2 linked regions of the Homo sapiens genome follow. The protein of the gene in region 2 purifies or fractionates together with the protein of the main gene of each other region. This does not show direct contact. Each region holds a gene or a part of one and is shown on either strand. Other genes may lie near its edges.

Region 1 (3,816 bases), on a different chromosome or scaffold from region 2:
AGCCCTCGGAAGGTGCGTGGATGCCCTTGCTGTCCTGGGGTGGCCCTGTGGGGAGCCGGATGAGGTTGTTGGACAAGTTCAGGTAGATGAGTCTCGGGAGCGCGGCCAGGTCGGGGAAATGGAGCAGTTTGTTCTCCCGCAGGTCAAGCCAGGTGAGCTGGAACTCAGCCTGGGGCTGGGAGGCCGTCTGAAAGGCCTCGATGCTGTTGCAGCTCAGGTCTAGCACCCGCAGCTGCTGGAGGCTGAAGTCGGAGATGCAGGTGAGGGAATTCCTGGAGAGGTTGAGATGGGTCAGGCGGGGCAGACCCTCGAAGGCGCCATCCTCGATGTCCATCAGCACGTTGCTATGCAGGTCAAGCTGCTCCAGCGCAGGCATGTCCCGGAAGGTGTGGCGGGTGAGGCGAGTCAGACTGTTCTCCGCCAGTGAGAGGGTATGCAGGCTGGGTGCCTCCCCCAGCAGCCGCTCCAGCAGGCCGCTGTACAGGCTGTTCCCAGACAGGTCCAGGGAGGTCACGCGTGGCAGGGGGCCCAGGCCACCAGCACTCAGCGCAGTGGCCATCGCCAGCCGGTTGTGAGCCAGGCTGAGGTGCTCCAGGTGGGTCAGGGCCTGGAAGGCTCCTGGCTGGAGGAAGCTGATCTCATTGGTGCTCAGGTCCAGGTGACGAAGTGCTGTGTAGAAGCCCAGGGGTGAGGCCAGGATACTCCGCAGCTGGTTCCCAGATAGATCAAGGGTCTCAGTGTCTGGCGGGAGCACCGAGGGGACCTGGAGCAGGCCCAGAACCTGGCACGAGACCTTCTTGTCCACCTGGGGAGGGGTAGGGTGGGGAGACAGCTGGCATAAGTGGGCACGGTAGGGGATGAAACCAGACATGTTTATCCAGGAACCCTGCCTGGCTGGGGAACCCTTCTCCCATGGACTCCCAGAATGCTCAACTTTCCCCCACCGCAGCCTGATCACCCCATGCCTGGATGACCCATCCGGCTCCCTGCCCCATCTCGGGCACCCAGCGCAGTAATGGGCATTAAGGAAGGAACTCGATGAAGGTTCCATGGGTGGACAGATGGAGAGATGATAGACAGATAGAAGGACAAATAAACTAACAAAGAGAAACCCTGTACTTATTATTACCCCTCTTACAGGAAACAGCCATATATCCCACAGAGTGACCCCAAGCCAGTGAGCAGCAGGGCAGAGCTGGGACCCAGGGCTCCTGATTCTATGTCCTAGGTCCCTTCTATGGGCACAGATAGTTAAATTTCTGGTGGTAGATGGGAATTTCTCCACTTTGGGAGAAATGTTTCCAAAAGGGAAAACTGTAATTTGTGCTCTGTCATCAGTTTTTATCTTGGCCTCCCTGCCTCAGACCTCATTCAGGCTCTCGTGTCATGGGCAGAGCCTGGGTCCTGGGGCCTGCCTTCCTTGTGGATGCTTCCGAGATGTGGCTTCCTCTCTGTTGCTGTTACCTCCTAGGAGGTGGCTTTCTTCCCAGGCTGGGTCAGGGGACCGGGCCCCTGGAGGTGGGAAGGGCCAGGGAAAAGATGGCCAGAGCCAAATCCACAGTCTTTGGTGATGAGACTGTGTTTGTGCTGTGCGACCTCCAGGAAGTCACATAACCACTCTGTTTTCTTACGTTCTTCCCCAGCAGCCACTCAGCATTTGACATCTTGGTTAATACTTTCAGGCCCATGGTCCCATTGGTCTTTACCACAGCCTGCCCATCTGATACGATCACCCCTATTTACAGAAATCTAGGCTCAGGGAGGGGAAGGGAGGTGCCAGGATTGCCCAGCTGGTGAGGAGCAGAGCTGGGATTTGAACCCAGGTTTTTTAACAACAAAAGGCCGAACTCTTGTTCTTCCACAGATGTGCCTTCTGGGACCAAAATTCTTCCTGTGCAAATGCAGGTCTCCCTCTTCTCTTCCAGGCCTCCAGGAACCCCAGCCTTTCCCAGAAAAAGGTCTGACTTCCACAATCACCGGGCTCAGGCTCACCGCCCCCAGCTTCTGTCTCCGCCAACCCGTTCTGACCCACTCACTGCTAAATGCCTGACAACTGCTCAAAAGCTCTACTCTGACAATGAGGCAGCTTGGCTTAAACTTCTCCACGGTGAAGTCCAGGATCCCCAGCAGGGCCTTCGAGGCTGTTTGTAGCCCCTGCCAACCTGTCCCCCACCTCCCACCCCAGCCCACATGCAGTGACCACAGCTGACCACTGCCCATCATGCGCTCCCACACCCACTGCTGGGGCCTGCTCCCTGAGCTGGTTATGCCATCCCCAACCAGATCCACACATGAACTCTTCACACTGAGCTTCAGGGCCTCCTCCACCAGGGAGCCCTCCCTGACTGTGCTTCCTCTCAGAGCTTTGCCCCGCTGAATTGTGGCTGTGTGTGTGAGGACCTGCTAGACAGCGAGCTCAGAGCAAACAGGGACTGGTTTGGTGGATGTGCATGCCTTGGACCTGACTAGCAAGTCAATTTTTCCTAATGAATGAGTCCCAGACATCATCAGTTTAGTAAAGGTCTGAGGCACTGAATCAATCACTTCTCTAGGAGGAAAGAAAATGCATAATTGATATTTTCAAAATATAGTCAAAGACGGGTAGAGCAAGAAGAGTTCAGCTGACCCACTTCCCAGATGTGAACACTGAGGCCTGAAGATGGCAGTGACTTGCGTGAATTCACAGTGAGCCAGTGGCTGAGCTGGTAGGGAGGGAACACAAGCCGGTGTGTTCCTCCCCTGGTCCAGCTCTGCGCTTCCTCCTGAGAGCCCCAAGGTGAGTAGGGGGAGGAAGAGACCTGCCCAGCCTCAGGCCTCCGTGTGGCTCTTCTTACTCCATGCAGCACAGTGACTCCATGTAGCCTCCAAGGGAGGCAGCTTCACAGGGGCCTCAGGAGGCCCAGGGATGCCCCGTCAGTTGGGCACCTGTGTGAACCTGAAACCTGCCCAGCTGCCTTGCCCATCCTTGCCCTTCCTCCCTCACAACCTCTCTGTCTGCAGGGGCCACTAAACATAGCCTCCTCCTCACAGCCCTTACCCCCTGGGGCATTCCTTACTTAAAGCAGAAACAACAAAATGACCTGTGATGGAGCCCCAGCTGTGTCAGGCTGCGTGCTGAGTGCAGAGACCCCCTACCCCATTAAATCTTCCCAGGCATTGTTCACCCTGTTCCTATTGTACCCCTAACGAAACTGAGGCTAAGGGGAGTGGGCTGCCCAAGATCAGACAGTCAGGGGCTCAAAACTCCCATTTGCAAATTCCTTTTCCTATTGGTGCCAGCCAAGTTCTGACCACTGGGCCCTCAGCTGGTCAGCACAGCAAAGAGCATCATGGACCCACTTACTGACTGTTACAGTGTGGGGGGCACCGTGCTGTGCCCCGCGTGTTACCCCCGGGCAAGTGCAGAGGCATACTGCCTCTGGATAGGCAAAGGCTCCCTGGGGCACCAGCCCCTGAGACTTGATCCAGGACACAAAGTTTGCCAAGCCCACAGCCCAAGACTGGCTTTCCATTCAGGGGCCCAAGACCCCTGCTCTAGAAGCCTGGGGGCCTGATGGTGGGCAGGGCTGCACTGGGATGCCCAGATCTCCAGTCCAGTCCAGGAAGAAGCTTGAAGTCCAGGGCGGTGCTCAGAGCTCCACTTCCAGGGTCTTCATGCCTCCTTCAGCTCTGAGCTCCCAGCATTGCCTGACTTACCGTCGGAGGGAATTGGAGGAATTGGCCCTTGACCAGAGTTTAGAGCTCCCACCCACTGTCCTGGGCTATCAGGACACCCACTGCCCAGCTTCCTTTTCAGAAGCAAAGACTTGCCATCCA
Region 2 (4,166 bases):
TGCTGGGATTACAGGCGTGAGCCACCGCACCCAGCCTCTTTGAGAAGTCTAATTCTGACCCTTGCTTTCAATGCTGCATAGTTTTGAGAATAATAATGGAGACAGCATAATACAAGAGCACAGGTTTGGTACAAGACCTACTACTTACTGCATGTACTGTGGGGCACATACAATACTTTCTGGTGAGGTACTTGTGCAAATGAAATGAAGATGGAAAACTACATGGCGCTAGGCACATATTAAGGGCTCAGCAAGTGGAAGCCATCGATGTTATTCTAAAATATATGACCAACTTTTCCCATAAGTATTTATTATACGCTCTGTGCCAGACATTGTAGTTGGGAGAGAAGTATATGTTTTCAATTTCACAGTTTCGTCAGAGGTGGATAAACTAAAAGTGCTTGGCAAGCCAGAAATAAAGAGCGTAGAGTTACAGGATCTGAGCATAGAAGTGAGTATTCTGGTTAGACCCGTTTAGAGGCAGAGTGGAGACCCAAGCTCATTAAAGCATAATGGGGTTAACTGAAAAGACACTTAAGGAAAACCTAAAGGGACAGAACTGGGGCATAATAATGCCAGGCTGCCTAGATGCTGAGGCTGGAGATGAGGCTGCTCCCAGAGTAGCTCTGGGCCACCAGCATTACTGTGTCACGTTCTGCATATTTGCTTTTCTCTCAGCCCACCACCTCTTGCTGCCCAGTTTCTGCTTCCCAGACACATGCGTCATCGTGACATCTCTAACCCTGATGATATCATTTACTCTTCACCTGCTGTGTCCAGCAGTAAATGGCGTATATTTCTGTGTTGTTTGGTTCAGATACTCATGAGATGATATGTTTAGCTGAGCTTATCTTTGAGATGGGCATTAAGAGGTCATTGGCCAAGTGCCAATCCTGGTTCTGGTCATCTGGGACCTTTTGTAAGAAGGGGACAGTGCTGATGGTATGTGGTTTAGACCATGGCTGCTTTGGCTGCAGGATCTGCACATATCAGTTTCCCGTAGAAACCAAGTGAGCAATAAGGCCACCACACCTAGCACAATGGCTAATTAAGTCCTCTAATAAATTTTTTAAAACCCTACTGTAAATTTTTGCAATTTTTTTGTCTATATGATGTTCTAGTCAAACTTTCATCTATAAATATGGAAGATGCCAAAACTGGGGAGAATGTTGAATGGCACTTGAATAATTGGATCATTGACTAAGATTTTTGTTTCAAAGGGACCTGCCATATTGACAATAGCAGTGAAGCTGATGTGGAAGCTGCCACAGATCTGTTCCTTTGTCCGTTTTTGGGATCCACAGGCCCTATGTATTTGAAGGGAAATGTGTATGGCTCAGATCCTTTTGAAACATATCATACAGGTAGGTGGTTTTCTTGCTTGAGTACAGTTCTGTTTCTTAGAGAGACTTCTAGATGTGCTAACTGTAATCTCCTTCTGTTACTGCCCCCATATTAAAAAGGTTGCAGTCCTGACCCAAGAACAGTTTTAATGGACCACTATGAGCCCAGTTACATAAAGAAAAAGGAGTGCTACCCATGTTCTCATCCTTCAGAAGAATCCTGCGAACGGAGCTTCAGTAATATATCGTGGCCTTCACATGTGAGGAAGCTACTTAACACTAGTTACTCTCACAATGAAGGACCTGGAATGAAAAATCTGTGTCTAAACAAGTCCTCTTTAGATTTTAGTGCAAATCCAGAGCCAGCGTCGGTTGCCTCGAGTAATTCTTTCATGGGTAAGTTTATTAAGTTATCAGGTACCTCGTCTGAGGATCCATACTCCAAGTTGTGTGTGAGAGAGCAATGACAGCCTTGAATGTCAAACTGGTAAAAAATGGTTTCTTGAATGAGGCTGCCATGACATCCGACTAGTTAGTGTAAATGCCTCCAAAAGCAAAGTCAGAGGTGGGATTTTACTTGATGATGTGTTTAATCTATAACTAAGCCTCAGGAGCTTTCTGGGTAGCACTGTGTGTGGCATCTACTCCAAGACAAGGGTTTGGGGAGGACTTAGGAGCTCAGCTTGTCAGCCATGTGGAAAAAGTGGTTTTGGGCTCCCACGGCCTTTGGGGTGGAGTTGTGTGCTCTGCATGATTGTGGTTTGGTATGTCTGGTGGCTTCCAACTGAACCCGCAGTCGAAGGGTGGAAAACAACATCCTACCTAGCAACAACTGCTAGTCTGACAAGCTGGACTACCTTTGGCCAAGAAAACCAGCCTTAAGGTCCAAGTCGGTGGTGTTAGATGCTGGCTGGCACTGAGATTAGGTAGTGAATTTTTTCGTCTGATGCATGGGGATAATAGGATGGAAGAGCTGAGGTCATCTTTTCACTGAACAGAGAGATGGAAAAATCAGCCACAACTTGCCATGTTGACAATAAAATTTAAAAAAGGAGAATTTTCAAATATTTTACCCAACTTCTACGAAATGTTATGTTTTATCACAGTGTAATTATTTATATTCCTTTTTTGGAAAAAATTAAAATAATATGCTTTGTATAACTGAGGCAAGAATTTGATTCAATTGAGTAATATTTGGCTACAATTAATGAAGAAAGGGCAGGACACAGGTTTATTTTGAAAGAAAATTTCTTTATTTAGCCTCAGTTAACTTGGATGTTACCATCCAACACACCCGTCACCAAAATTGGGCTCTCAGCTAGGATGTGGGGAAACTTATATTGGGGAACTTTATTGCATGACCATTAACATTACTACAGGTCATGAGAAATGATAAAGAATAGATGCATTTGTTCAGTGGATGTAAATATGAGGGAAGGCAAATGTCTTTTGCTCCATTCTAGAAGTGATCTGGCTGTAAGACAGATGTACATGTATGTGAGTGCCATAATGTGGACTTGTAGAAAACACTTACTCATATTCATGGGGTAAGATGTTCCTTCATTTGCAATGGGTTTTATTGATTCACATGCTAGCAAAGGGACCCATGTGCTCAAGGTGTTTCTTTCTTTCAGGTACCTTTGGAAAAGCTCTCAGGAGACCTCACCTAGATGCCTATTCAAGCTTTGGACAGCCATCAGATTGTCAGCCAAGAGCCTTTTATTTGAAAGCTCATTCTTCCCCAGACTTGGACTCTGGGTCAGAGGAAGATGGGAAAGAAAGGACAGATTTTCAGGAAGAAAATCACATTTGTACCTTTAAACAGACTTTAGAAAACTACAGGACTCCAAATTTTCAGTCTTATGACTTGGACACATAGACTGAATGAGACCAAAGGAAAAGCTTAACATACTACCTCAAGTGAACTTTTATTTAAAAGAGAGAGAATCTTATGTTTTTTAAATGGAGTTATGAATTTTAAAAGGATAAAAATGCTTTATTTATACAGATGAACCAAAATTACAAAAAGTTATGAAAATTTTTATACTGGGAATGATGCTCATATAAGAATACCTTTTTAAACTATTTTTTAACTTTGTTTTATGCAAAAAAGTATCTTACGTAAATTAATGATATAAATCATGATTATTTTATGTATTTTTATAATGCCAGATTTCTTTTTATGGAAAATGAGTTACTAAAGCATTTTAAATAATACCTGCCTTGTACCATTTTTTAAATAGAAGTTACTTCATTATATTTTGCACATTATATTTAATAAAATGTGTCAATTTGATGCCAAGCCCCATTTATACAATAACAATTTTTATTATTTTTAGCACAATTTAGGCTTAATTAGTTCACATTATCATGTCTCAAACGGATGGGAATTATATTTAGCCCATTAAAGTATGAACAAAAATGACCGTTTTTTCTACCTCCCAGGATTGTTGTAATACAGATTGAAATCAGATTGTGCATATGAAAGCACAATTGTAAACGAGAAGGAGCTACAGAGATTTAAGGTACATTATTTCTAAATCTACGAACAAAAAAAGATTTGTTGTTATAATCTGGTGTAATATAGTACAACTACCATAAATCACTGCTCAATTCATGTTTCTTTAATTATAATAATGGTTTACGTGGTCTAATGCCTTATGCTTATCCAAGTAGTTTCACTTTTGCCGTCCCTTTTCTTACAGCAAGCGAGTGGTTTATTGCATATGTCTATAGCTAAAATGGCTCTAGCAGAAGTGGACTTTCATGCACTGTTCCAGGTTGTAATGAGATGCTGCTAGAATTGTTTTCTGTTTTTATTGA

The links.
Region 1: the proteins of LRIG3 (region 2) and LRRC32 purify together in Homo sapiens (co-immunoprecipitation; one large-scale study listed by IntAct). This does not show direct contact.

The regions. Positions count from the first base shown.
Region 1 is NC_000011.10:76,660,704-76,664,519, forward strand, and holds part of LRRC32 (transforming growth factor beta activator LRRC32 isoform a precursor), read right to left. Parts: intron 3,164-3,816; exon of another isoform or gene 1,926-3,163; intron 806-1,925; coding exon 1-805.
Region 2 is NC_000012.12:58,871,628-58,875,793, reverse strand, and holds the end of LRIG3 (leucine-rich repeats and immunoglobulin-like domains protein 3 isoform 2 precursor), read left to right. Parts: intron 1-1,220; coding exon 1,221-1,364; intron 1,365-1,463; coding exon 1,464-1,739; intron 1,740-2,977; coding exon 2,978-3,222; 3' UTR 3,223-3,639; downstream 3,640-4,166. UniProt on the Homo sapiens protein: May play a role in craniofacial and inner ear morphogenesis during embryonic development. May act within the otic vesicle epithelium to control formation of the lateral semicircular canal in the inner ear, possibly by restricting the expression of NTN1.